Linked DNA regions of Homo sapiens. The protein of the gene in region 1 interacts with the protein of each later gene in a biochemical or structural test. Each region holds a gene or a part of one and is shown in the gene's direction. Other genes may lie near its edges. The genes, in order: HSPG2, PRELP, FN1 and FLT1.

The links.
Region 2: the proteins of HSPG2 (region 1) and PRELP form a complex in vitro, tested with the Homo sapiens proteins (one study listed by BioGRID).
Region 3: the proteins of HSPG2 (region 1) and FN1 form a complex in vitro, tested with the Homo sapiens proteins (one study listed by BioGRID).
Region 4: the proteins of HSPG2 (region 1) and FLT1 form a complex in vitro, tested with the Homo sapiens proteins (one study listed by IntAct).

What each region holds. Positions count from the first base shown.
Region 1 is NC_000001.11:21,927,302-21,934,326, reverse strand, and holds part of HSPG2 (basement membrane-specific heparan sulfate proteoglycan core protein isoform b precursor), read left to right. Parts: intron 1-7,025. UniProt on the Homo sapiens protein: Integral component of basement membranes. Component of the glomerular basement membrane (GBM), responsible for the fixed negative electrostatic membrane charge, and which provides a barrier which is both size- and charge-selective.
Region 2 is NC_000001.11:203,471,475-203,478,823, forward strand, and holds the start of PRELP (prolargin precursor), read left to right. Parts: upstream 1-4,331; 5' UTR 4,332-4,464; intron 4,465-7,349. UniProt on the Homo sapiens protein: May anchor basement membranes to the underlying connective tissue.
Region 3 is NC_000002.12:215,426,044-215,433,068, reverse strand, and holds part of FN1 (fibronectin isoform 1 precursor), read left to right. Parts: intron 1-1,104; coding exon 1,105-1,236; intron 1,237-2,216; coding exon 2,217-2,354; intron 2,355-4,730; coding exon 4,731-4,889; intron 4,890-7,025. UniProt on the Homo sapiens protein: Fibronectins bind cell surfaces and various compounds including collagen, fibrin, heparin, DNA, and actin. Fibronectins are involved in cell adhesion, cell motility, opsonization, wound healing, and maintenance of cell shape.
Region 4 is NC_000013.11:28,317,106-28,324,130, reverse strand, and holds part of FLT1 (vascular endothelial growth factor receptor 1 isoform 1 precursor), read left to right. Parts: intron 1-1,184; coding exon 1,185-1,341; intron 1,342-1,771; coding exon 1,772-1,869; intron 1,870-2,545; coding exon 2,546-2,668; intron 2,669-4,596; coding exon 4,597-4,708; intron 4,709-5,212; exon of another isoform or gene 5,213-5,602; intron 5,603-6,533; coding exon 6,534-6,633; intron 6,634-7,025. UniProt on the Homo sapiens protein: Tyrosine-protein kinase that acts as a cell-surface receptor for VEGFA, VEGFB and PGF, and plays an essential role in the development of embryonic vasculature, the regulation of angiogenesis, cell survival, cell migration, macrophage function, chemotaxis, and cancer cell invasion.

The sequences.
Region 1 (7,025 bases):
GGCTCCCAGCACACCTTGGACCCTCTTTGCCTGCTACCCTTGCTCTCATCTGCCCTTCAGTTTGGTCCGGAGCCAGTGGCTTATGGGGAAGGGTTGGGCACAGCAGCAGGGTGAGATGGGCCTTAGGGAGCTCCAGGCTTCCCCGGGACGGGGGACAGGACCACAGGAAGCTGATCTGTGATTAAGTGTGGGTGTAATTTCAGCTGTTGGGAGGTGAGGAGGCTTGCTGGAGGAGGGGGCTGGGCCTGGGTGACTCGGCAGGCCTTGGCCTGCTGACCCCTTTAGGGCGGCCCTGCAGGGGACAGGCGTCTTGAGGGAGCCTCGGTGGTGATTAAGGTGTTTTCCAGGGCCTAGGAGGGAAGTCGCTGAGATACCTGTTTCCTGCCTCAGCTGGATTTCCTCACTGGGGAGGCTGCCAGCTGAACTGCAGGAGCCTCCCCTTCCTGGCGGTCCCTCAGCCCTCCTCCACGCAGCCAGCTGCTCTGTCACCTGACACTAGCCTACTTGTTCCGTACCTGCAGCCGGCACAGGATGGGGTTTTGAGTGTGCCCTGGACATTCCCGGAGGGAAGGAGGGCAGGCTGCAGGTCTGTCTGCAGGGTAGAAGCTGGAAGGGGCAGAGATGGACCACCCCCCCATCCCTTAGGCCCATTTCCCCCTGTCTGGGGAGTTGTGGCCCCTGCCTGGCTTGGCCCGGGCCTGCTCTCAGGCTGAGCGCAGACAAGTTAGGATCTGTGGGTCTGAAGCCCTGCCCGGGAGACGGTGGAAAGAAGGTGGCAGGAGGTGACTGGGTTCAGGGCCCGGAAGACGGGTGAGCAAAGTGGAGGGGAAGGAGCTCTTGGGGTGCCAGGCTGGATGATGACACAGTAATACGGGTACTTCAGACTTACCCAGTACCCACTGTCTGCTCTGAGTTTCTCAGTGAATCCTCCCATTCACCTGTGTTTCCTGCTCACCACCTCCCTGCGGTGCTCAGAATTAGGTCCCAGCCCCTGACTTAATATAGCCTACGAGGCCCTGCAACACCCGGCCTCCTGCCACCTGCTCCTCTCAAACTCCTCCAGCTATACCAGTCTTTGTTTCTTTTTCTTTTCTTTTTTTTTTTTTTGAGACAGGGTCTCACACTGTCACCCAGGCTGGAGTGCAGTGGCACAATCACAGCTCACCGCTGCCTCAACCTCCCACGCTCAGGTGATCCTCCCACCTCAGCCCCCTGAGTAGCTGGGACTACAGACACCCTCCTCTACACCTGGCTAATTTTTGTATTTTTTATAGAGACAGGGTTTTGCCATGTTCCCCCAGGCAGGTCTCGAACTCCTGGGCTCAAATGATCCACCCCCTTCGGCCTCCCAAAGTGCTAGGATTATAGGCGTGAGCCACTGCACCCAGCCTTTTCTTTTCTAATGAATATAAAAATTTAAAACAAATAGAGATGGGATCTTGTTGTATTGCCCAGGCTGGTCCCAAACTCTTTAACTCAAGCTATCCTCCCACCTCAGCCTTCTGAAGTGCTAGGATTATAGGCATGGGCCACCTCGCCTGACCAAGGCTTTGTTTCTTGAGCATGTGAAACACACTCCCACCTTAGGGTCTCTGCGTCTGCTGTTCCTTCTGCCTGGGACATTTGTCCCCGTAATATCCATATGACCCTCTCCCTCTTTCTGGTCCTTACCACTCTTCCCATAATGGCTGTCTCCTTAAACTGCTTTATTTTTGTTCTCACAATTGTCTGGCCTGTATTTGTCTGTATTTGTTTATGTGTTTATCTGCTTCCTCCTGCTCAGTTTAAGTTCTACGAGAGCAGGACCTCATTTGTTTTTGTTCACTGCTGTATGCTTAGCACCTGGCAGGTAGTAAGTGCTTAGTGAATATCTTTGTCGAATGTTTTAAGCTGTAGCTACTAGCCTGATCCCCATTCTCTAAGCAGAGGACATTGAGGCACTGAGAGGTTACGTAACTTGCCCAGTGACTTACATATCCACACACTCAGAGATGCTGCAAGCCAAGTTTTGAATCCAGACGAAGCTCTCCTAATCACGCCACGTACTGCCCCATGTGCTTGTCGTGGGCAGTCAGTAGATATTGCTACAACTTGTCACAGATGTTGATTAAGAACTCTGGTCCCAAGTAGTACAGGGGCTACCTCAGGCAAGGAATATCAGGGATTGGCTCGGGGACAGAAGCTCTTAGGTTGGGTATGCCTCAGTGTCCGTGGGGTCTCCTAGGGACGCCTGTGCCTGGAGGGGAAGCCTAGGAACTCTAGGGTGGTCATTTTTAGGTTTGTTAATTCATTAATGTTCTCATCAGATATTTCCTGGGACTCTACAGGCAGTTGAATTTATCCAGGGACTTTTAGGCCTGAGTGGGCCAGGCTGGCCCTGCCCAGTGTGGGAGGTCAGGGGCCCCTGCCCCTGCCATGCTGCTAGTGGGGGAAGGGGAAGAACACCCTCCTGGTTGTCCTGTGTGGAGCCTGCGCTGTTTTTTTCTGGCTGTTCCCTGGGGGCTCAAGGTTTAGGGTGAGTCTGCAGAGCTTCAAGGGCTGCCTGGCCTTGGGGTGAGAGGCTCAGGAGGGAGGGCAGGAGGGCCTGCCCAGGCTATGGAAAGATCTGGAGCAATGATTCAGAGGCCACTTGGAGGCCAGAGGTGTGGGCTCTGCACCCTCAGACTACTTGGGGTATATGGGAAGGGTTCCCAGCCCTGGCCTGTTGCCCCCCTCCCCTTCACCCAATCCAGTCCCAGCTATGAGGGGTCAGACTGGAGGAGGAAGTGAATATGACTTGGTTCCCCGGCAGCTTCCCAAGTATCTGCTGGGCCTACCTCTCCCTGTCCCAGGGCCTACCCTGGCCTTTTTCTCCTCTCGCTCCTGCTCCTGCCAAGAAGAGGGAGGCTGCGCCGAGGGTCCCGGCCCTGCTGGAATGTTGCTTCCGCCTGGGCCTTGGCCTCTTTGGCCCTGCCACCCCCTCCTGCTCCCGGGGCCAGCTGCCCCAGCACCCAGAGCTGGCTGACTGAAACCCAGAAGTATGTGTGGAACTCACTTCGCGGGGAGCCGCCGGCCTCACTGCCCAGCCTGGTGGCGTCAGGGCTGTGTCAATAGCAGCCTTGAGAGGGGTGTGGCTCGTGGCTGCTGGGGTGGCCGGGTCGGGGGTGCTGTCATGAAAGCCCTGAGAACAAGGTGGCTCTTTGAGGCCTGGGAATGTGAGGCCTTTGAGTCTTGCTGCCCCCAGAACCACTCTCCCTTCCCTTCCATGATGCTCATCTGTGCCAGGCCTGCAGGAACCTCAGAGCATCCCTGGAGGCATCTGTGGCATCCTGAGATAGCCTTAGGACCAGCTCCTAGCTCCTGACCAGGGCCCATTCCCTGAGCCATGAAGGAGGGTGTCCTGTTGCTCTGGGTTTTAGGGGAGTATCTGGTGCGCAAAGCCTTGCAGAGTGTGTTGAATGAATGAATGAACAAATGATGTATGTGATTAAGCGTTTTTTAAAATTCATTTCACAAATATCTGTGGAGCATCTTCTATGTATCTGACTGTGTTCTAGATCTTTTTTTTTTTTTTGAGATGGAGTCTTGATCTGTTACCCAGGCTAGAGTGCAGTGGTATGATCTCGCCGCACTGCAATCTCTGCCCCCCAGGTTCAAGAGATTCTCCTGCCTTAGCCTCCCAAGTAGCTGGGATTACAGGAACACGCCACCACGTCCAGCTAATTTTTGTATTTTTAGTAGAGATGGAGTTCCACCATGTTGGCCAGGTTGGTCTTGAACTCCTGACCTCAAGTGATCCACCCATCTTGGCCTCCCAAAGCACTGGGATTACAGGCGTGAGCCACTGCACCCGCCCTGTTCTAGATCTTGAGGTTACCGCAGAGAATAAAAATGTCAGATTCCTTCCTCTCATGTCACTTGCGTTATAGCTAGTGCAGGAAGACAGACAATAAATGAAATACATCAGGTGGTGATAAGTGCTCAGAAGAAAAAATAAAACAGGGAAGAGGGCAGTGAGTGATGAGGCGGGGTAGGTAGGGTGGGGTGGTAGGAAAAGCCTCTGATAAGATAAATTTGAACTGAAGGAGACCTGAAGTAAGTGAGCGGGTGAGCCTCGCAGATATCAATGGAAAGGGCATTCCAGGCAGAGGGCACAGCTAGTGCAGAGGCCCAGAGGTGGGAGTGTCCTTGGCATGTCTGTGGAAAAGCAAGGAGGCCCGTGGGGCTGGAGCAGCATCAGTGAGGGGGAGCATGGTGGATGCAGCAGGCAGGGGGGTGGCAGAGGGTGATCAGCAGAGCTTTGGCCATGGGAAGGACCTTGGATTTGCGTCTGAGTGAATTGAGAAGTCACTGAAGGGGCCCGGTGTTCCATAGGATTGCTTTGGCTGCTGTGTGGAGAGGAGCACGGGGAGGGTCCAGAGCAAAGGCAAGGAGGCCGTGACCCAGGACAGACGATGGGAGCTCAAGCTAGGACCACGGAGGTGGGAGATGGTTGAATCCCCAGTACATTTTGAAGATGGGTCACCAGGATTTGCTAGTGGGTTGGATGTGGGGCGGGACAGAAAGAGAAGAGTCCGGGATGCCTCCACAGTCTTTGGCTTCAGCATCCCGAAGGATGGAGCTGCCACTACCTGAGATGGGAAAGTTCCAGGAGGAGTGGGCAGGAGGTGGAGTCCAGAATTCTCAGAACAGTTAATTTATTTGTGTCTTCTCTTACGATCTCTTGTTTGGACAATAAAAATTCCTAAAAAAAAAAAAAAAAAAACCGGCAGGTGGGCCAGGAGTGGTGGCTCACACCTGTAATCCCCACACTTTGGGAGACCAAGGTAGGAGGATCACTTGAGCCCAGGAGGTGGAGGTTGCAGTGAACCATGATCTTGCCACTGCGCTCCAGCCTGGGTGATAGAACGCGATCCTGTCTCTTAAAAAAAAAAAAGAAAAAAGAATGGCAAGTGATGGAGGGGACAGCATGGGTGGGGGTTGGACTGGCTCACATGCCTGGCAGTCATCCCCCTACCCATCTCCAGCCAGGAGCTCCCCCGTCCCCACCCAAGCTGGGGCCTCTGCATTGGCTTATGGTGTAGGCGGAGGGGATCTTGCTGAGTGTTCATTTGTGGAGTTGCAGACTCTGCCTTAGAACTCCACAGCCGGAGCTCATGGCTTGTAGATTTATTCTTACCCCCTCATCTAGAGTGGAAGCTGCATGAGGGCAGGGACTTGGCTTTGTTCATTGCTGTTTGCCTGGTGCTAGGCAGATAGTAGGTGAACACATTAAAACTTCAAGTGAGGCTGGGCACAGTGGCTCACAACCTGTAATCCCAGCACTTTGGGAGGCCAAGGCGGGCGGATCACCTGAGGTTGGGAGTTCGAGACCAGCCTGACCACCATGGAGAAACCTCGTCTCTACTGAAAATAATAATAATAAAAAAATCAGCTAAGCATGGTGGCACATGCCTGTAATCCCAGCTACTCAGGGAGGCTGAGGCAGGAGAATCACTTGAACCCGGGAGGCGGAGGTTGTGGTGAGCTGAGATCGCGCCATTGCACTCCAGCCTGAGCAACAAGAACAAAACTCCATCTCAAAAAAAAAAAATCAAGTGAATAAAGGATGGGCGCGGTGGCTCACGCCTGTAATCCCAGCACTTTGGGAGGCTGAGGTGAGCAGATACTTGAGGTCAGGAGTTCGAGACCAGCCTGGCCAAGATGGTGAAACCCCGTCTCTACTAAAAATACAAAAAAGTTAGCCGGGTGTGGTGGTGCATGACTGTAGTCTCAGCTACTCAGGAGGCTGAGGTAGGAGAATCGCTTGAACCTGGGAAGCGGAGGTTGCAGTGAGCTGAGATCATGCCATTGCACTCAAGCCTGGGCGTCATTGCGAGACTCTGTCTCAAAACTACAAACAAACAAACAAATTCAAGTGAGCAAATTAATGGCTTTGAGGAAGCCAGCAGGCCAAGAAGGCCCAGGCTCCTTGCTGAGATTGGAAAGGGGCGTGCTCTGGCCCCTGCACTTGGGAGCTGCCTGCCCAGCCATGCTCTCTGCAGGGCCCCAGAAGATGTGGGACAAGCTGGGATGTCCACTCTGCCCTTTTTGACTTGTCTGTGTCCTCATTGGTCTCAGAGCCACTTCCCTGGGCACTGTGGTCAAGGGAAAGATGTGGGCTCAAAAGGCCCTGCCTTCAAGTCTTGGCCCAGCCCTGACTGGCTCTGTGACCTTGGGCAAGTTGCTTTACCTCTCTGAGCCTCAGTCAAATGTGAAATGGGGAGGCCTGCTTCCTGGTGGTTATGAAGTAACCAGGTGGATGCACCTTGCTCAGTGCCTGGAATGTGGCAGGTATTTGACAATCCGTGATTGCACTAAGTCTCGTTCCTGCTAAAGACAAGGCCGGTGGAATATCTGAGGCAGGGTTCCCAGGGCACAGCCGGGCACGCCTTCTCTATGACCCAGGTCCTGTACTGGGCTTGTTGAATGAATGGCTGTGTAAGGGGATTGTCCATTCCCTGGGCCTCTTTCGCAGTCTCAGAGCTCCGGGTGTAACTGCCTCTGATCTGTCACTGCCCCTCCTTCGCCTACCGAGGCCGCAGCTGTAGGACAGAGTCCATCCTTCCACCCTGATTGCTCCTTCCTGGACTGGGAGAAGGAGGGGGGCACACCCCAGGGTGTGGCCTGGGAAAGGCTGGAGTCTTTGGACGCCTTGTCCCCTTCCCAGATGTGTGCAGTTGGTGGGCTCTGAGCAACAGGAGGTGTGGCCAGGGGCTCCCATGGGTGCAGAAAGGATGTTCGTGCATCCTGAGGGTAGTGACAGTGGGGGGGGTGGGGGATGTCCTGGGACCCCATCCTAGCCCTGTCCCCCCCTGGCCTACACTGGAGGAGGCAGGACCTTGCCTGGGGAGCTCTGGGCCAACCTGCAGTTGGTCCTTACTTGGTGGGATGTGGGGCTGCTCGACTCTAAATCTGGCTCCCGTGGCCTCAGAGAAACAGCAGGACTCAGGAGAGAGAGACACACAGGCCTGGGGATCTCACCCCACCCCACCCTATGCTTTGGG
Region 2 (7,349 bases), about 180 Mb from region 1:
TAAATAAATATTGGGGGGTGGGGGCAGAGAAAGAATCACCAAAAGGACCAATATGATCATCTTCAAAAGATACCTGTACCACTAAGTGAAAATAAAAGTGCATAGCTGCTTATTTGTTACTAGTGTGTACCTTAAATAAATCTGTGAGGACACAAGAAACTGGCGCACGGTCCTCTGGGGGAAAGTGAGTGATGAGGGGATAGGCAAGGGAAAAGACTTTTTCCCTATGCAAGCTCTTATACCTCTTAGATTTTCAATCAAGAGAATGTATTACCTATTCAAAAAATAATAACCTTTTTTTAAAAAAAGAGGGTGACAGAGAATCTCCTTGTTCAACCCTCTTAAATTCAATGAAACAGACCCCTACTGAGCACCCAGGGTGTGCCAAGCCGTTGGTGGGTGCTGTGGGTTATACCATGATGAACAGGATGCTGTCTCTGCCCAGCAGGGGCCCACTCACCCCAGGCAACCCAGGCCCCCCAGGCTGGAGGGTGGGACAGGCTGCCACAGGACTCACACAGCTTCTCCCCCGTTATGCATTTGCCCAGACCCCACCCACCCTGGACTGGGAGCCTCAACTAGTACAGGGTGAGGGTCCGTCCAGGGCCAGCCTCTGTGGGTCCTGATGACCACTGAGCAGTTTGAGCCAAACTCTTCGGGCCCACACTGCTCCTTCCCGGCAAAGTCTCAGGACCACCACGGGGGAGGTGGGAAGCTTGAGTACCTCCCTCCTGTACTTCTATGGAAAGAGTATTACACAATTGTGTCCTTTCTTCTCTTGCTTTAAGCACTCACTGCTTGTAACCAAGGCAGCAATTACTGTGAGGGTCAAAGAAATGGTAAGCCCCCCAGATGGATTTCGGTCTGGATGGGAAGTGTGGGCAGGTCCCAACTCTGCAAATGCAGCTGAAACCCACCAACTTGGAGAGCCCCCTCCCTCTGCTGCCTGGCCCTCCCTGCATTCTGTCTCCTAACCATGCTGCCCCTAGCCCTCTCCTAGGACCAGGCAGCAGTAGCAGCAACAATGTGCATATCTGGACTTCTCACCATATGCCCCAGCATTCACATCATGTGCCTGTGACTGTTCTCTGGCTACACCAGCAAGAGATAAATACCTCCCCTGGGTTGAAGACACACCACTGGTGTCCCTGAGACTCTAGGAGAGTAGAGGAGGCTCTTCCTGGAGGATCCACATAGTCCCAGGGTGCATGAAGCCAGTGAATCACAAAATACTCCCCTGCCATTGCTGCCAATGATCCTTGTGTTATCTTGGGTATACCCTGGGAGGGAGATGGGGCAGATGAGAAAACCAAGGCTCGTGTGCTGAGACCTACTCACCAGGTAGCTAGAGAACAGCAGAGTTGACATCTTAATCCAGGTTTCCTAACCCCAAACCTTATACTCTCTCTTCACAGTATTGTTGGAAGAGCACTGAGAGGTCATTTGGTACAACCTCGTGTTTTATAAATGGCAAACTGAGGTCAGAGAGGGAGAGAGACATCTTCAAGGTCACACAGCATGCAATGGGGCAAAGCCAGGTCCCAAGAACCTGGACCCCTGTCTACCAGGATGGCGACTGTGTTGAACTGGGAAGTGCTTGTCCTGACTAAAGGTGTTCAAATCCTTTTTTTTTTTTTTAACCAATGCTTCAAAATATACCAGTAGGGTTTGTGGGAGTGGGGAACACAGAAGAAACAAGATTGGCCATGAGTCGGTAATTGTTGAAGCTAGGTATTAGATAATGGGGATATTAATACTATACTGTGTAAATATGTATACGTTTTAAAATTTCCACAAAACTTTTAAAAAATTAACGTGCTGTCAAAAAAAATTAGGTACTCAAGCCATATTAGGTCCACAAGCCACTGATTAGCAAACTCTATTCTGGACACTCCTGAATATCCTGCTGGCCATGTCTATACTTCTTTCCAATTCTCTCTGCATAGCGTGGGATGCGGGAGATAGGAGAGGGAGGAAGGGAGATAACTGGCTTAGGCAGGGCTTGGAAGTTGGCCATCCATTCCCGAGAGCATAGACTCTTGGGATTTGGATGGCTGTCATACAAATGGATACAGGTGACACCCCTGCCCCTGCCCATACTCCACACTCCTTCCAGTCTGTCTATCCCCACAGACACTCTACCCATCATCCCTGTACCTCACTGTACTTTGCTCACCTTATTATTTTTTGAGACAGGGTCTTGCTCTGTGACCCAGGCTGGAGGGCACTGGCGTAATCATAGCTCATTACAGCCTTGGTCTCCTGGCCTCAAATAATCCTCTCACCTCAGTCTCCTAAGTAGCTGGGACTTCAGGTACACACCACCACACCCAGCTAATTTTTAAATTATTTGTACAAACAGGGTCCCCCCATATGGCCCAGGCTGGTCTCGAACTCCTGGGCTCCATTAATCTTCTGCCTTCGTCTCCCATAGTGCTGGGATTACAGACATGAGTCTCCGTGCCCAGCCAGTCTTTTTTGCCCTCTATCATCTACCACCCACCATACCAAGGGAAACAAGCAAATCTGGCGTCTGATGTTCCCGGCCTGCAGAAGACGCCATATCCCATCTGGATGAGAAATGAAGCACATGAGCAGCCTGGCAGAGCCACAGTTAATGTGAACCTGGAGAGGAACCGTGCTGTCTTCCAGCAAGACCTCACCAGCAGGGCGTGAAGCCATGAGATCTGGGGTGGAAGGGGGTTGGAGAAAGGTCTGGGTTTTATTTTTCCTTCTCCTTTTCTTAGGCTAATTACCATTCATCGCAATCCCTTTCCTAAACCCTAATATCTTCCCAGTTTATAAAGTGCTCTCACATTTACAATATTTAATCTTCCCAACCCTGTGAGGTCAATATTATCCATATTTTGTAAATGAGGAAACTGAAGGTCCTCATGATCAAGTGATTCACCTAAGACCATAGCTTGTGGGTGGCTGAGCCCAGGGCTGCAGACCCTAATTTTAATGTTCTCTCCTCTACCCCATATTGCGGAGGGCAGGCAGGCAGTCCCCTGTCATGGGGCTCTGCAGCTCTCCATGGAACCAATAATGGAGAAGAAAATTGCGTTGCATTTTCTAAGTAGTCAGCTGGGATGGCAGGAATTTATTTATTTTATTTACTTATTTATTTTTTGAGACAGAGTCACGCTCTTGTTGCCCAGGCTGGAGTGCAGTGGCACGATCTTGGCTCACTGCAAGCTTTGCCTCCCAGGTTCAAGCAATTCTCCTGCCTCAGCCTCCCTAGTAGCTGGGACTACAGATGCCCGCCACCACACCCAGCTAATTTTTTTGTATTTTTAGTACAGACAGGGTTTCACCATGTTGGCCAGGTTGGCCTCAAACTCCTGACCTCAGGTGATCCGCCTGCCTCTGCCTCCCACAGTACTGGGATTACAGGCGTGAGCCACTGTGCCTGGCCATGGCAGGAAATTTTGATGGGCATCTACTTACCTGCAAGTGTGTTGTGCTTTCTTAATTGAGGGGCATTGTTAGAGGATTGTTAGAGGTAGTGGTGTTACTTGACTGGGTCTTCTGGGGTGTTGATGTGCACAGGGGAAATTTGGATTTCCCATCACTTTGTGTGATGACCACACAGCCCCTAAATCTCACCTAAGTGTGATATGGAGAAGCTGAAAGAAGCCACTACATTGTCCACATGAGCTAGGAACAGTGACTTTAGGTCTTACATTAAATCTTAATTCTGCCTTAACTTTGCTGTGCAACTCAGGCCAGACTTCTCCCTCTCTGGTTCTCAGAACAGCCCTGGCAGCCAAACCGAAGTTATCTCCTATGCCAGCCTGAGACTCCACTCCCTTTGCAACCTCCTGGAGAAGATAACTTAGGGAAAGACTGTCACTGCTCAGAGGAAGCATCCCAAACCCCTCACTGGTTTAGGAATTTAACACTACCGAGCAACGGCCCCAGAAGGCAAGGCGATTGTTAGGAGGAATTAAACAGGCTAGTGCTGGACCCAGCCATCCAGTCCTGGCTTACACAGAGGTTGCTTTTCATGCCTTTTCACTCTGTTAATTTGGCTTGTTTTCCAAACATGGGTCAAACAACCCCTCTCCAGAAGCGGCAGCAGCAGAAGGAAATGTTATTAAAAATGAGTCTGTTAGTGGGAATGGTGTGTGGATGAAGTCTTTGGGAGTTTTGGCTGCCAAATAAAGACTTTATTGTCATTCCTCCTTTCCCAAGCTCCCTCCCTCTCTCCTCCCCTCCCCTCCCTCCCTCCTCCCTCCTCTCCTCCCCTCCCTCCCTATGATCTGCCCCTCCCTCCCCCCAAGCTAACCTCCCCACCCCAATAGGATCTGGTGGAAGAAAAGTCAGGCAAACACAAGCACGCACACACCACTGGGAGATCAGATCTTCTAGCTGGCTCTCTGCTGCCACAGCTCCGCCGAAGGGAGGGGGTGGAAGAGGAGGACTAAACTCAGAGCTGAGAGGAGAGGCAGGTGTGTGCAGGTAAGCCCAGTTGGGAGATGGGCAGGAGACTGGGAAGAATCTTTCATCCAGTAAGTTTCCTCCAGCTCTGTCCATTTATTGATCTAGTCTCTATCCTCTCACTCCTTCCTTCCTCCCACCTCTTTCTCCTCTCAAATGAGTTCAAATTTAGTCTTCCTAACTTCTTTCCTATAGCCTCTTCCTTTTCTTTTCATCACTCTGTACCCCTATATTTGCTTACTGCAAAAGTTAAGCTTTCCTGCTGCAGATGTTTGTTGTAGCACAGAGAGCCACGCTGCACAAAGTGTTTCTACAGATCAGGTGTTTCCATAGAAACTGGACTCCAGAACCCATTTCTTTGCACCTTTTGTGTATTGTCACACATTGTGGAAGTCACACACATCACACGGAGGCTGCACGTTCACTACCATCACCCCACACGACCATACAAAATGAAGACATCCTGTCCATTCACCTCTGCCCTCTGCATCTGACATGCAGAGCTAGACCACATCATCACCAGACACCAGCAGACACACACACACATGCATGCACACATGTTCCCTGCATCTTGTCTCTCGCCCTCTCACACACACCTCCCTAGCTGTAAGAGCAAAGATAAAGTACGTTTTCCCACTGAGATGGCAGAGCCAGAAGAAAATCTTGCATCCCAAGTCCAGGCCGAATAGGGAGGAGATAAGCAAGAGCGGGAGCTGGAAGGGTTTCTTCATTATTTAGGGCTTCACTGGGTAGGAGGGAGAGAAAAACGGCTTTTTCCAACCTGCACAGTGTCTTCTCAGCAGCTTTCAATTTCTGTCTCACTGGTCCAAACCACTTGGCTTTTGGAAAGAAAGAAGAAAGCGACCCAGTTCCCAATCCTTGAAGGTCCTAATTCCCAGCTCTGGGGACAGTTCATTTTTTTATTTTTTTTTCCTGCAGGCAGCCAGAAAAATATTTTTCTTTAAAGCCGTTCTGAAATTATTCCAACCATTTAGGTTGGCAAAAGGTCCTGTGGCAGAGGAGAAAAAAAAAAAAAGGCAGCAGTTCCTTAAGCAGTTGGGGAGGGGAAAACTGAAGGGCGGCCCCTCTCCTGCTCCCCTGCTCATTCCTCTCTATTAATAGAGAGGGTCTGTCCCAAGGCAGGCGGGGTGTAGGGAGATCAGGGGTCCCACACACAGCTGATCTTCACAGTCACCTAAGGGCTGGAGAGGGAGGAGTGTGGAGGGCTTACTAAAAATACAGATGTCGGCTCTCACTGCAGATCTACTGAATCGAGACCCAGGAATCTTGTTTTAATACTTCAGGAGATTCTGATGGTCCACCAGGGCTCGAGAATCAGGGGCCTGAGAGAGAGCTTTGCTGTAATTTTTAAGCCCAAGACTCCGGCAGTGTTAGCTGGGCAGAAGGACTGTGTCCTGGAAAAGGAGCACCAGAGTGTCCCAAATAGGCCACCTCTTTTTTGGGGAGTGGGAGTAAACAGGGAAGAGCTGTCTCCCTCTCTCCTCCTTGCAAGCACAAGCAGCCATATATACCACAGAGGAACATTCCAGTAAGAAAGTTCCCCCAAGATGGCTCCACAGAGCTTCTGTTTCCCCTCACCTGTTAATCTGCCTGCCCCAGGACCCCAGGAGCATGTGCTGGGCCCTTCCCCTGACCCTTATAGGTCCCTGCTCCTCCTTCCCAGCAGCCACCTGTCTGGGCTCTCACAGAGGGTGAGCTGAACACTTTCTTCATGCCCCCTCCACCTCCCTAGTGGGCAATCCCATTTATTGGGCATGTGAGTGAAGCATTTCAAGGCTGGAAGGGGCAAAAAGCTGGGAGAAGTCAAGAATCGCAGTGGAACTCCATGGCCCACTGAGGAAGGCAGACTTGCACCTTCTGTGGCCAGTGTCCCCTCACCTGTTGCAGAAAGCATCGGTGAGAAGTTGGTGAATTAGAAAGACAGAACAAGCTTTCCCTAGGTGGCTGGGGACTTCCAGAGTCTCCTCAGTTAGTTGTTTCTGAGACCCAAGTGTGATCTCACAAGCCACAAAGGGGAGGAAGTTGCTCTGTGTGGAAGAGCTGGTACCCCACTCACAAGGATCCCTGCCTTCGAGCAGTGCATGGGGGCTGCCCTCTAGCCAGGCTGGAGGGAAGGAGACCCCATTACTTTGAAATAATATCAACAAGACCTTAACATTCAGAAAACACTCACTTTGCATGTATTAACTCATTTAACCCTCAAAACAGAAAAGAAGGTGTTAGTATCCCCATTTTATAGAGCAGAAAAGCAATTGCTTTGCCTAAGCCTACCTAGCTAAGCATCTGAATGAAGAACTGCAGGATTGGGTCTCAGATCTATAATCACTCAAGGCATCAGACACACTCTTCTAGGCTTTCTTCAAGGCTTGGAGATGCTGGGGGAATGGGGCAGAGGATATGGTAGGTGGCGGGCTGTCAGAGAAGAGTCGTCTCACCCTGGTTTCTTCCCCACCGCTCAGAATGGAAAACTTTCTCTTCTAAACTAGTGGCCTGAGGCCAGAAAATCTTCATTCTGTTTACACTTTGCCTTGTGGTAGACACTGGGGAGACAGATGGTCTCTCCATAATAGTGTTATTTTTATTTTTAGCACTTTTTGATCTGTAGTGCATTTTAAAGCTGCTAACTGCACTTGCTTCTGACAATTGGGTAAGGAATATAGGTATAGGGAAGATTTTTTTATTCCCATTTTACAGATAAGAAAACTGAGGCCCAGAACAGGGTTCGCATCACTAGGTAGTGGTGGAGGGGTGAGAATCTTCTCTCCTAACTAGTATGCACCACAGGCTCTCCTCCCACTGCCCCAGGCAAGCTCATCCTTGTATCGTTTCACCTTCCTAGAAAGGGGCATCTTGAAGTCATCATGCCCCCATAAGGCTCCTTTGTT
Region 3 (7,025 bases), on another chromosome or scaffold:
CATAGTAGAACCAAGAGACCTCTTGGGTTCCATTTCAGTAAGACATGCTTAGGGGAGTTGCCCATTTTAAATCACCTGGATATCTTCAAGCTAGACAAATCATGAGACTTTTCTGCAGTGACTGGGAAGGTGTTCATGAAGAGTGAACCAGCCATGTGTTGTCTGGTCTTCATGTTTGCAATGCAGAGACCTCTTGCACCTCACAGAAACAGTCTGGTTTCTTGGTGACCAGTAGGTTATACCCAGGAAGCAGATGTCACTATTCCTAGGGATAATACAAAATTATTAACCCAATAGAGTTTGCTAAGGAACTTTGGGAACCGGGCTGATTCTCAACTCTAGTTTAGCTAAGGCACTCTTTCCAGTATGATTCACTGGGTTACCAATAGATTCTATTAAGATAGTATTTAAGTTTTTTAATCCATTCTTTAAATATAAGTCGTCTTAAAGACTTCTATTCAAAAGAACAAGTCCCGTGTGAATAGGCCCAATCAACTTTCCCCATATTTCATGTTAGGGTTTATCCAAGTTCACAGGCAAATCGCAAGAGGCAAGGGTCCATAGTGTTTACAATCTAGTTCAGCATTTGAATGTGCCATTGGGCTTAACAACTTAGAAAACTACCAGGATTTCCACACTTTATATGCATATGTCTGTTTGCTTTCCACCAAAATGACATTTCTATCCTAGGGTAAAATACAGGCTCTCCATGCTCCCAAAAGCTGGAGTGCTGTGCCTGATGTGGCCTTTTCACTGAATTAGTCTCAGTCTTAGCCTGCTGTGTATGAGTGAAGACCAAGCCTCCCAGCCTTTCTTTTCTGCTTAGGACCCAATTTCCTGTGATCTCTCTGGGAAAGCAGGATTCATGACCTCTTCCTTGCCATCCAGATTTCTCTGTGGTTTTCCATTGTGTTCTAAGCAAGACACTTAACTGAATTGACTCCAAGTGACCAGACCTGTTAACGTTTCCCCTGTCTCTGATGGGAAAGCTGTTGTCTGTGTCTCTACTTTAGCCAACCTAAGTACCTACCATGGGTGGAATATGAGACCAAAAAAAAAAATCTGTTCTGCCCTCTCCTAACATTTTCGTTGTATCTTCAACAGACCGCTGCCATGAAGGGGGTCAGTCCTACAAGATTGGTGACACCTGGAGGAGACCACATGAGACTGGTGGTTACATGTTAGAGTGTGTGTGTCTTGGTAATGGAAAAGGAGAATGGACCTGCAAGCCCATAGGTGTGTGAGTCTTAGGGCTGAGCAAGAGCTGGGATGCTTAGTTCTAATGTGGGGTTGGACCAGAATCACATCTACATAGGTCATAGACCTGAATTCCAGTGAAAACCAATAAAGAAATGGGAATTTTGTTTGAAATAATGAATTATTATATAATCCATAGTCTTCTTACAGGAGTTAGATCAAAAAGTACTGACTACACATAGAAGTCTTAACTTTGCTTCAAAAGCATAAGGTAGAATTGAAAGATTTAGAATGGAGTCATTTCTTTTACCTAATAGCTGATCTCAGATTCCTCCTTCGTCAAGATATAATTTATTTAAAAGAAAAAAAAATGACACTTTGGACACATTTCTATATGGAATGTCCTGGACCGAAACATGAAATAGTGTGTGCTTGTCACACTCTGCTCATTTCTTTTCAAATTAAAAGTTGTTGAGCTTCTTTGGATCTCAATCCTCAGTTGAATTTTGTAAGTACAAGCCTGAAAGTTTCTGGCTATAAATTTTACTCTGTTTACTTGTCTTCTAATTTAGAGGTTTTTGTCTTGTTTTGTATTGTTTTGCTTTCCAATATTTAAAAATAGCTTTCTTTGTCATTGTATTTAGGCCACTCAAAATTCATAATTGGTCATTTATAATTAAGATTGGAATTTTGCATATGTAGTCTCCCACAGACTAGATACATACATAGATCCTTGCTACTGGAAATGCTGCTGGGAAGTTTGGGGCTCGCTGAAAATATGTAGTCCATGTACTTATTAGGAGAATGGAATTTCTGCCTGCCAACTCAGCTTGAGCTTTCTTTTGCCTTGGCTACTTACTGTGTGCTTAGATGCTGGGTGTGTCATTCTTTCTGAACAGAGTGCCACTTAAAAAAAATGTGGCTGAATTTTTGCTTACACACTACACTTTAAATTACAGGGAGCTTGCACAATTCAAAATAACCTTTTTTTCCTGTTTTTCTTCCAAATTTCCCTACAGCTGAGAAGTGTTTTGATCATGCTGCTGGGACTTCCTATGTGGTCGGAGAAACGTGGGAGAAGCCCTACCAAGGCTGGATGATGGTAGATTGTACTTGCCTGGGAGAAGGCAGCGGACGCATCACTTGCACTTCTAGAAGTATGTTTTACATCTTTATGTTAAAGATTAAGCCAGGTATTGTTTTCTGGATTCCTAGAGAGAAGGGTAATACTATGTTACTCAGAACACATCCAGTATATCAGCATGCTTTGGTAACTTCTGGAAGTCAAGAAAACTTTCATAACCAACTTATTCCGCATCTTCAGAGAAGACTACATAAATAGAAAAACATATCACTTTGATAAGGTTCAATCTCAGCTCACTGCCACTGACATAGAGTTGAACAAAAGGTTTAGGTTTCCTTCTATGTTTGAAATTTAAATAGGGCACATTCACAGGCTAAATTGATAAAATTAAAAAGAATTTATCCCATAAATTAAAATGATTTATCTACTCTGGAGTTAGGGATAGTGTCTCTGACCTAACGCATTTGATTAGTGCTGTAAAGAAGCTGGCCTCTGGTGTCTTTACTGCTCCTTCTAAGATTGTCTTGGGGTCTTAATTGTTGCCTTTGGGTTTGAAGGCTCCTTTTTTGATATTGTAAACTAATAACAGCTAGAGAGTTTGTTGAAGTAAAACAGCCATTAACTACTGGTGTTGTAAATAAGTTTAAAATCAAATCCAAATAATTTGAACCTGTTTTATTTATCTAGCTGAACCCATTTAACTACCTTTAACATAGCCATCATCCAAATTCAAATTCTTTGCTAACAAAAATAGGTCTCTCATGAAAAGTGGTAACCATTTTGACCAAAGCTTTCCCAGAAACTTGCTGGTTTATTAGATATTTTGCATTTAAAATGTTACTGTGATCATCAGACTTCCAAGATCTTTGTGGCAATATTTTAGCTTAAGACAAATTAGATGTCTGATTCAAACCTTATCTGTTATTTAGAACTCTTTAAATAGCAAGTTGGGAAAAGTTTCTCAAAGAGAAGTCATTTATTCCAGAAAATTTTATAAGGACTTACTTTGTTCAAGGTATTATAGGGGTGCAGATATGAAATGAACATTAGCCCAGCCTTCAAAGAGTACTTAGGGGGTCAGGGAGATGAGAAAGTCTTATACATATTTATCATCTGCAAAACACAGTATTAAAGATTTCAACAGAAATACTGAAAGTAGTGCTATGGAGGTTCAGGGGATGATAATACTTTTCGCTGGGGATTTGGGAAAAAGCTCTAATCAGTAATTATACCTTCATGCAAACTTCTATTCTTGTGGTAGATGGATGTGGGTGTGTATTTGTTTGAACCTACATCAACTATTAATTTTTTTTCTCTAACCCAGGAGTTGCAACAATATCCAATTCACAAAGACATCAGATCCTCTATACTCACATCGTGGCACAGAGCAAATTTGGATTATAATTTAAATAATCTATTTACCAGATAAATGCACGCATAGACTAATGGTCATTTAGTTACAAATTATCATTTTATGTTGATCCCACTCTTCCAGTGGAGGGCTAACACTGAATAATTTGGGGCTATTTTGCTAGTGATTTTTAAATACTGTAGATGTTTGGGTATAGGGGAAGGGAAAATAATATTTTAGTCAAAGAAATTGTGCATCCTCTACATTTTTTACATAACAAATGAAGAAAGAGATACTACCACCTTCTTATAGCTTCTTTGTAGCCATTGGTGAAGACCCTTTGATACCTGCTTGCCTCCCCATTGTTATAAGCTTTTTTTTGTTTGCTTGTTTTTTTTGTTTTGTTTTGTTTTGTTTTGTTTTTGAGACAGTCTCACCCTGTCGCCCAGGCTGGAGTGCAATGGTGTGATCTCAGCTCATTGCAACCTCCACCTCCCGGGTTCAAGCGATTCTCTTGCCTCAGCTTCCCGAGTAGCTTGGATTACAGGCGCCCGCCACCACAGCCGGCTAATTTTTTTTGGTATTTTTAGTAGAGACGGGGGTTTCACCATGTTGCCCAGGCTGGTCTTGAACTCCTGACTGCAGGTGATCCACCCTCCTAAAGTACTAGGATTACAGGCGTGAGCCACCGCGCTTAGCCTGTTTTTAGTTTTCTAAAGCAAGGTCCCTATTGAAAGGCAGGCCATAAACAGTGATGACTAAGAAAAATCCTGGAAGAGCCTGAGAAGGAAAAAGATGAAATATAATGCCAGAGAATGAAGTTAGTCAAAGGAACAGTGTGAAAACAATAAATAAATAGATAAATGAAAATGTTATTTGACAGAGAGATGAAACTAGACTAAACCATTCAGCTGCCTTTCCACTGTAACAAATGTAATTTCATCTTTCAGAAGTGTAATACCTTGCAGCACCAGAGCTGAATATGAACATATTACCAAAAATAGATTACCAGGCATAGATAGCATTCCTTTTTTAAGTTTGAATTGACCACTTGCGACTCTCGACCTGATGTATGTATGTGCTTCCTTTGTGACACAGATAGATGCAACGATCAGGACACAAGGACATCCTATAGAATTGGAGACACCTGGAGCAAGAAGGATAATCGAGGAAACCTGCTCCAGTGCATCTGCACAGGCAACGGCCGAGGAGAGTGGAAGTGTGAGAGGCACACCTCTGTGCAGACCACATCGAGCGGTGAGGCACAGGACGAGCAGGGGCGGGAAATGGGGAAGCAGGTCAAGAAATATTTCCGCAAATCCATCTTTCCTTTGACATGCCATTTGAGGATAATTTGCAGTGTTTCAGCTAATAACCTAAGATAATTTACACATTATTGGTTGTTAAAACTTTTTTTAATGTCAAGTTTTAAATTTTTCAGAAAAAAAGAAAAATGACATACAAATAAACCTTAGGGGGAAAAAAGCCAGATTTATCTCCAAAAGATAAAACTGAGTTTTAAAGAATGCTAGCATCATAAAACTTACCATGGATAGATCACGCACACACGCACACACACACGTATTTTGAATATCCAAAGTTCATTTGAAAGGAAATGAGAGTTATAATTAATTATATGACTACCTGGTTCTTCTGCTAGGAAAGGACAAAAAAAGTGCATTTGGATTTTTTGTTTGTTTGTTTTTGAATGAAATATACTTCCCTGTCCCGACATTGAACTCTTTTTGTAGTGGAAACCATCCTTTATATGTGGTTTCTATGCTCTGGCAAACTTTGTTACATTCTATAAAGTAACACACAATTATTTCCTTCATGTATTGGCATTCGAAATTTTAGAAATTCAGAGAGGACTTAGAGATGGCCATGAAAGACATGATATCTAAGCATTCTTTTTAAAAAACAAGTTTTAATCATTTTTGGCATGAGAAAAAGATTTTTACGTCATAAATGTTTCATAAAAATCTGAAGAGAGAAATATGGCCAACAAGGACGTGCACTCCTCTCATTATTTTTAATATGTTTTGATTAACTTTTTACTATATGATGTGCCAACATCATTACGTAGTGTCTCAGCCATCCTTCAATTAAAAATATTAATTGTTCTAATTTTTCTTCTTTTGATGAGTTTTTGTCTTGCTTTGAGCACTTATGAAGGTGAACAAGATTAGATTTGATAATATCTTTGAGTTATTTTATTATCATTAATAAAATTGCTACTGGCCAAAAAAAATTATAAACATCGGCCACGCGCGGTGGCTCACGCCTGTAATCCCAGCACTTTGGGAGGCCGAGGCAGGCGGATCACGAGGTCAGGAGATCAAGACCATCCTGGCTAACACGGTGAAACCCCATCTCTACTAAAAATACAAAAAATTAACCAGGCGTTGTGGCGGGCGCCTGTAGTCCCAGCTACTCGGGAGGCTGAGGCAGGAGAATGGCATGAACCCGGGAGGTGGAGTTTGCAGTGACCCGAGATCGCACCACTGCACTCCAGCCTGGGTGATACAGCGAGACCCCATCTCAAAAAAATAAAATAAAATAAAAAATAAAAAAAATTATAAATGTCAGTCTACCAAAATAGATTAAAAGTGTAGGTGGGAATTAAATGGGGATAAACACTCAATAAATGTTAGCTATATATGAATATTGCCAATACTGAAAAGATTCCATTGTTCAAAAAAGTTTGAGAAGCAATGGGTTAAACAAAATGGAACCTGCTCTGCAGAATCTGTGTGTTCCTTTACATCATACTCTCCATGGTAGAGTGTAGGGGATGGGCGCCATGTCTCCCTAGTACGTTTGACCTTGGGATTCTTTGTCTGTGAACATCTTTGGGTTCTAGTGTTCAGCAGCACTTAGGGAGGCACTGAATTCAGTGTACCTTTGGTCTAGCCTCAGCCCTGATTCTGTTCTGCGGTGGGCCCTGGCCTTCAAGAGAACAGATATCTAAAAGTTGAAAGAAAAGATCGGCCGGGCGCGGTGGCTCACGCCTGTAATCCCAGCACTTTGGGAGGCCAAGGCGGGTGGATCACAAGGTCAGGAGATCGAGACCATCCTGGCTAACACGGTGAAACCCCGTCTCTACTAAAAATACAAAAAATTAGCCGGGCGTGGTGGCGGGTGCCTGTAGTCCCAGCTACTCGGGAGGCTGAGGCAGGAGAATGGCGTGAACCCGGGAGGCAGAGCTTGCAGTGAGCCGAGATTGCGCCACTGCACTCCAGCCTGGGTGACAGAGTGAGACTCCGTCTCAAAAAAAAAAAAAAAAAAAAAAAGAAAAAAGAAAAGATCAACACATCCTGTTGTGTTATTCTGAAAGGAAAGCTGTCTTAAGAGGATCAATTGGTTTTAGAAAAAACACAATAGAATCACAAA
Region 4 (7,025 bases), on another chromosome or scaffold:
TTTTCTGGTTTCCCATGAACACCCAGAACTGACAACTCCTTTCCTATGAATCATAAAATAATAGTATAATAGAGCTTTTCAGAAGAGGATAATTAAACTCAGAAAAGTAAGGTGACTTGCCCAAGATCGCATGATTAATGGAAGAGCCAAATGAACCAGGGCTTGGATGTGCAGTCCAGGGTGAAAGGCCATTGCTACCCTTGTTAGGATCAAACTGTATCTTTGTTTAAATGGAAGAGAAAAAAAGCAATGTCCATGTTCCCTCCTTCCCCAAAGAAACCTGAGAAATTGGTAACTATAGCCTTCTCTTATAACTCCTCCTAGGGATTACAGAGTGAAGCACCAAGCACACTGAGGATCCTTTCCTCTCAGTGATGTCATCCTTCACAAGATGGCGTGTGGCATGGAAAAGTGGTTAAGGGCACAGATGTGGGCATCGACCAATCCTGGGTTCAAGCTTTGCTTTTTTTTTTTTTTTTGAGATGGAGTTTTGCTCTCGTTGGCCAGGCTAGAGTGCAATGGCGTGATCTCGGCTCACTGCAACCTCCACCTCCTGGGTTCAAGCAATTCTCCTGCCTCAGCCTCCTGAGTAGCTGGGATTACAGGCATGCACCACCATGCCCGGCTAATTTTGTATTTTCAGTAGAGACGGGGTTTCTCCATATTGGTCAGGCTGATCTCAAACTCCCGACCTCACGTGATTCACCTGGCTCGGCCTCCCAAAGTGCTGGGATTACAGGCGTGAGCCACTGTGCCCGGCCAGCTTTGCTATTTATTAGCTGCATGTGAATTTGATTACTTTACTTCTCTGAACCTGTTTCTCCATGTATAAATAAGAACTACTTCGTAAAATTGTTGGAAACACTAAACAAGAAATGTACCTAAAGCTTTTAATATACCAGCTCACACAGAGTAAGCATTCAGTAAATACCCACCACTCTTAATTTTTTTTTTTTATCTGATCTAAGATGCTGTCTAGAAGCCCAGGCAAGAGCACAATAGACTCTGCAACTCCAGAGGTAGTCAGGCTCCTGGACACCGTAGGGCCCCTGTGCTAGTTCACGATCCATTTTGAGAAGTGAAACGCTCTCATTTCTCATCAGGCGATTGCCAGTTGAGGGACTGGTTTCCCACTGCTGTGCTGGAGCTCCTTTTCACCTGGGTCCTTTTCGGTCTCTTCAAAGGATGCAGCACTACACATGGAGCCTAAGAAAGAAAAAATGGAGCCAGGCCTGGAACAAGGCAAGAAACCAAGACTAGATAGCGTCACCAGCAGCGAAAGCTTTGCGAGCTCCGGCTTTCAGGAAGATAAAAGTCTGAGTGATGTTGAGGAAGAGGAGGGTAGGTATTAATTCCTTCCTGTCCTACGCGCTGAGATATTTTTACAACATACTATGCATCTCTGAAATTTTTTTCTTATTTATCACTCTAATAAACATCCGTGGGAGACTCGAATGGTAATGTCCTGAGGAGATAAGATTTGAATTAAGATAATTTACAGAGTTACTAATTTTGACAGGGAACTGTACCGTTTTCTCCCCTCAGGGATTTTCATCTTAATGGATCATCCCCCTGCCCCCATGCTTGGATAAAGTGGGCTGGAGGCCTGGAAAAATCTCTGGTGTTCATGTTGAAACTCAAATACTCTTAAAAATGAACTCTGATCTACTTGTTGGTTTGTTTTATGTTTTGCTAACATTGTTCCAATAAACTGGGATTTGGTGGGATAACAAGAGCCATTACAAACAGTTACGGTTCTAATGCTTTCCAGATTCTGACGGTTTCTACAAGGAGCCCATCACTATGGAAGATCTGATTTCTTACAGTTTTCAAGTGGCCAGAGGCATGGAGTTCCTGTCTTCCAGAAAGGTCAGTCTTGCTGTTTACTGTTTTTCTTCTCTGCCAGGGCTGGACACACACCTTTGCTATAAATTCATTTTTCCTAGTATTTGCTGATACCTATGTTCTTAAATGTAGAACAAACACCACTGCAAGTGCCTTAATTTGCCTTGATATGAGGAGTTTTGAGAATGAGGAGTCATGGATACCAGTGGATAGAACTTAATTCTGGGGAAAACTCACAGGTTTCAGACTAGACAAACCTGGCATCGGCTCTCCACAGTATCCTCTGGCATATTTTCAAATCTGGCCCAAATCTCAGAAGACATGACTTCATAGGAGAGCTACTATTAATATAGCCATATAGGGCCCTCCCACAAAACTGCAGCTGGAGAAAGATCTCATCTTGGCAGCTCAGGATAAAAGACTGTGGGGAAAGTTTGCCCACTGGTAAATCTTAGATAACCAGCTTCGCTGATCAAATAGTAGCCCAGTGGATTCAGACCATTTCTTGACTTTGAGGGCTTGGGGACCTGTATTTGTAGAGAGGCTCTTCATGTTTATGGTAACTCTGTGTGCACCGAGAGGTGCTCCCTTCACAGCATGTGAAATGGATTCCCAAATTAAGATAATGACACTGACAGGTGTAGGAAATTAGTTGGTTAGGTTAAGGAAATGCATTGATTATGCAACTGTTTTATTATAGTGCATTCATCGGGACCTGGCAGCGAGAAACATTCTTTTATCTGAGAACAACGTGGTGAAGATTTGTGATTTTGGCCTTGCCCGGGATATTTATAAGAACCCCGATTATGTGAGAAAAGGAGATGTAAGTCAGTTTGATGTTTATTTGACTCATGTGTGTCCTATCACTTTTAAACCACAGACTTGGTAAATATTTACACTTCCTCAGCTGTAGTCCCTGAAAACCATCATTGGCTTTCTGTGAAGACAAACAGTCCAGATGAGCGGCATCCCAGAGAGCCCTTGTGTAAGGCTCAGAAAGGCCACTGTCTCCTGCTTCTGCTCTTCCCTAATGCCTGGCCTCCCACCTGTCCTTTGGGCAGCGCTGCGTGAGACTTGCTAACCTGAGAAGTGTTTGGTGGGGCCTGGGTGAGACCTTAGCATTACCTTCCTTTGAATCCTGAGGGAATTCCTTGTACCACTGAAAAGAACAGCCTGGACTCTTTCCCTCAAATAAACCCAGATGATTGATTCAGCAGGTGTATCTGTCTCAGGAAAGGGCGGGGAAGACCGTCAGCAGTAGCTGACTATGGAGGAGACTGTTTACCTCCCATGGCCTTCCATGCCTAGCATCTCCCCGCTGGCTCGTACTGGCTTCTCTTCCCTGCTTGTTTTTAGACATAGTGTTATTTTTCACTTTTGTGGATGACCTCCCATGTCCTCCCTTCTCCTTAACCCTCAGCCTATATACCCTGAGGGTTAAGCTTATGTCTGGGCGCCAATGAGTTACAGTAGTGGTTCCCAGCTTAATTGAACATACATATCACCTAGAAGGCTTGTTACGCTACAGTGTGCTGGCCTAACAAGCCTTCCACCCCCCAGAGTTTCTGAGTCAGTAACTCTTGGGTGGAGCCTGAGAATTTGCATTTCTAACCAGTTTCTAGACCAGGGGTGTCCAATCTTTTGGCTTTCCTGGGCCACATTGGAAGAAGAAGAATTATCTTGGGCCACACATAAAATACACTAACACTAACAATAGCTGATGAGCTAAAAAAAAAAAAAAATGCAAACAAATCTCATCATGTTTTAAGAAAGTTTACGAATTTGTGTCGGGCTGCATTCAAAGCTGTCCTGGGCCACATGTGGCCCGCGGGCCAGGAATTGGACATGTTTGTTCTAGAAGGTGCTGACACAGCATGTCCCAGGACCATACTTCGAGAGCCACTGCACCAGAATCTGTTGTATAGAAGGAAAACATATGACTTCACATTGATCCTTTGTAAAAATAAAAAAATAAAAATAAAGGAAAACAGACTTTCCTTGGGGCCCTGGTCTGGAGAGATGGCACCAACCTTCATGTTAGTCCTCCCCTCCTTTCTGTTCGTCTGTATCTGAGTCAGCCTCCCTGCCCCTCCCACTTCCTTTCTCCTTGTCTCTCCTTTATCCCATACCTCCCATCAATCCCCATCATCTAAAGTGGTGAGGCCTAACTCACTGGGATTCCTGCTATCTGAAAGAGAGGAAGATTTGTCTACATGTTTGAAAACTAACTGTATATTCTCTTTCAACACTGACTTCTTTCCTTCTTCTCTTCTTTCTGATGCTTTTGCACACTCTCCCTATTCAGTGACTTTGGAAATCTTGTCTTTTTGCATAGGAATGCTTTCAAAATCCTCCTTTGGAAAAATTTTTGGAAACCACCACCAGTTTTCAGGATATCTTCAAATTCAGATCACTCTTTTCCTTTTCCAAGCCCTGAGTGTGTCCCTGTGGAGTGCAGGCTTTCTTTGTGGGGGAGGATTTCTCACAGAGCTATGCAGATAAGGACATGCTGAACACATCAGAGGGGCTTACTGAACATATACTGCCTTCATGGGACTCAGTATAGCACTCTAGCTCCCTCTTTTAGCGTAACACTGCATACTATGGTGTTCTCTATGTTAGGAAACCAGAGCTGCTCTCGGAAATGATTTATAGGCCGTATGTTATCTGGGAGGTGACCCCATGGACACTCGGGTTGAATGTGCTTTGTTTTCATGCCCTTCTGCTCAAGGCCCCCTTGCCCTCTTCTAGACTCGACTTCCTCTGAAATGGATGGCTCCTGAATCTATCTTTGACAAAATCTACAGCACCAAGAGCGACGTGTGGTCTTACGGAGTATTGCTGTGGGAAATCTTCTCCTTAGGTAAATTTGGGAGAAGGAAGAAATCAAACAGCCCAGAAATAAATGTCTGCATCTTCTGCTGAATGTCCTTTGGTTAGACAGCCTTTAGATTAGAACCTACTGTAACAAAAAACTCTTAAAGTGTAATGGGCCCATGTAGACTCTCAGATGAGTAATGGCGTACGCATGTCTGCCCTCTACTGTAAAAGGGCTTTATATGATCATGAACAAGGTCAGAACAAGGTCATGTAAAAGGGCTTTATACGATCATGAACAAGGGTATAAAGTCTGAAGCAAAGTACTTTTTCTGTACTTTGCCCAATTCTGTCCTTTTCCAATTCCTCAACACCCACACCTCTAATGCCCTTACCGCTTCCCTCCCCGCGTCTCCCACCACCTCAGAATTTCTTCCTAGGAAAGGCCATAACAAGCTCAGCTGCCCCAGCGAGGAAGGTGTTGTTAGAAACAGGAGACCTTTCCAGTGCCTCTGATATGAACACATGATATGGCTCTGGACACTGGTTTATACAGGATAAGCAATAAACAACACTGGTTGTATTTATTCTGCTTGCAATAACATCCACTATGGGTGGCTGGAAGTCCTGTTCAAAGCACACAGATGCGTGCAGAGCCCACATCTGCTTGCAGACACACAGTGATGATCTGAGGCCTCTAAAACTCAAGTTCTCGCCAAGAGTCTTTTGGGCTTTGCCAAAAATTTGCCTTTCACAGCAAATAAAAGTCACCCAGTAACATCCCTGGTTTCCTGTAATGTGTGAAAATCATTCCCCTGCTTTCGATGACAGGCACCTGTTGCTTCCAGTCTTTGAAAGCAGCTTGGCGGCTGCAGTGGTCCTGCGATGACACGGTGCCAGCACTGCACGCCTCCCAGCTGCTTCCTACCAGCAGTAATCACTAGAAAATGCACACAAACAAATGCTGAGGTAGATGAGGCTGCAGGGCTAGAGCAAGAGTGCATTAGAAGGCCTTGCCACCCCCAGCCCTGGCAAGAATCCCCCCAAAAGGAAAGGTTGCAGGGGAATCCTGGGCAGTAAAGCTGGCAGAAGGCAAAGCCTAGGCCTCTCTGGCGCCCTTAGGTCTGCAGACTCCTGGCCACGGGCAGCCCCCACCCCATTCCACTCCATTCAGCCCAGCCCTGGAGCGCAAAGCCCCCCTTCCCTCAGGCCTGTCACAACTCCTAGAGCCCTGGTACTATAGGAAGGTTGCAAGAAAGTGAATTAAAGTCATTCCCACTCAAGTGTGAATGATTCCTATGTAGCCTATCCCAAGTCTATTGGCTTTTTAAAAAGAAGCCCAAGCCAAGTGTGGTGATGGTGAGCACCTGGAGTCCCAGCTGCTCGGGAGGCTGAGGTGGGAGGATTGCTTGAGCCCAGGAGTTCGAGGCTGCAGTGAGCTAAGATCATGCCACCACACTCCAGCCTGGTGACAGAGGGAGACCCGTCTCTTCAAAAAAAACAAAAGCTCACTAACCCAAAGGATGAGTCTCTAATGATGGGACTTCTTTAGTTACTTGTGGGGAGAAGGCAAGGACCCTTCAGACGACACCCCTTCCTCTGACCACACAGGCAGAAGTAGCCATAGGAATAGCCTGTGAGCACCAGGTGCCCCGCACCATGTGACCACCCAACCAAGCGGGTGTCCTTAGCAAGGATTTGCTGAGCTTCTCTGTGTGTTGTACGGTATGTTGAGATCTGTTGTAATCCCTGGGAATTTATTACTAAAACGTAGCTTTAAAGGGAGGAAAGAAACACTGAATTGTCCCCTCTTGGTCTTTTGTACCCTTAAGCCATAACAGGCCCTGTGTTTTCCACATTGTCTCCCGCAGGTGGGTCTCCATACCCAGGAGTACAAATGGATGAGGACTTTTGCAGTCGCCTGAGGGAAGGCATGAGGATGAGAGCTCCTGAGTACTCTACTCCTGAAATGTGAGCCCTTGGTGCCCTCTGCTCCCCATCTGACAGCTCGCTTTTCACCAGGGCATTCCTGAGAGGGGATGTTTTATGGATTCTTAGAGTCCCAGTCTTGGAAGATGCCAAGGTTCTTCTTTCCTTTAGAGATGCTCCCCTCAGCCCATCAGGCCCAGATATGCTGGGAGTGTTTTCTTGCAGTGGGGCACGTGGCCCTTGACCCATCCCTACCTATTTCCTGTCCTGACCACTGACATGACTTTTCAAGGGCTCTAGCTGGGAACTGAAGTTAGAAATTCAGTTTCTAGGTATGAATCCAGGCAAAACAAACAGACCACCCAGGAACTGAATGCAAGACCTTGGCCTCACTCACGGAGTGGGAGCCAAACAGGCCTAGCAGCCCCAGGGAT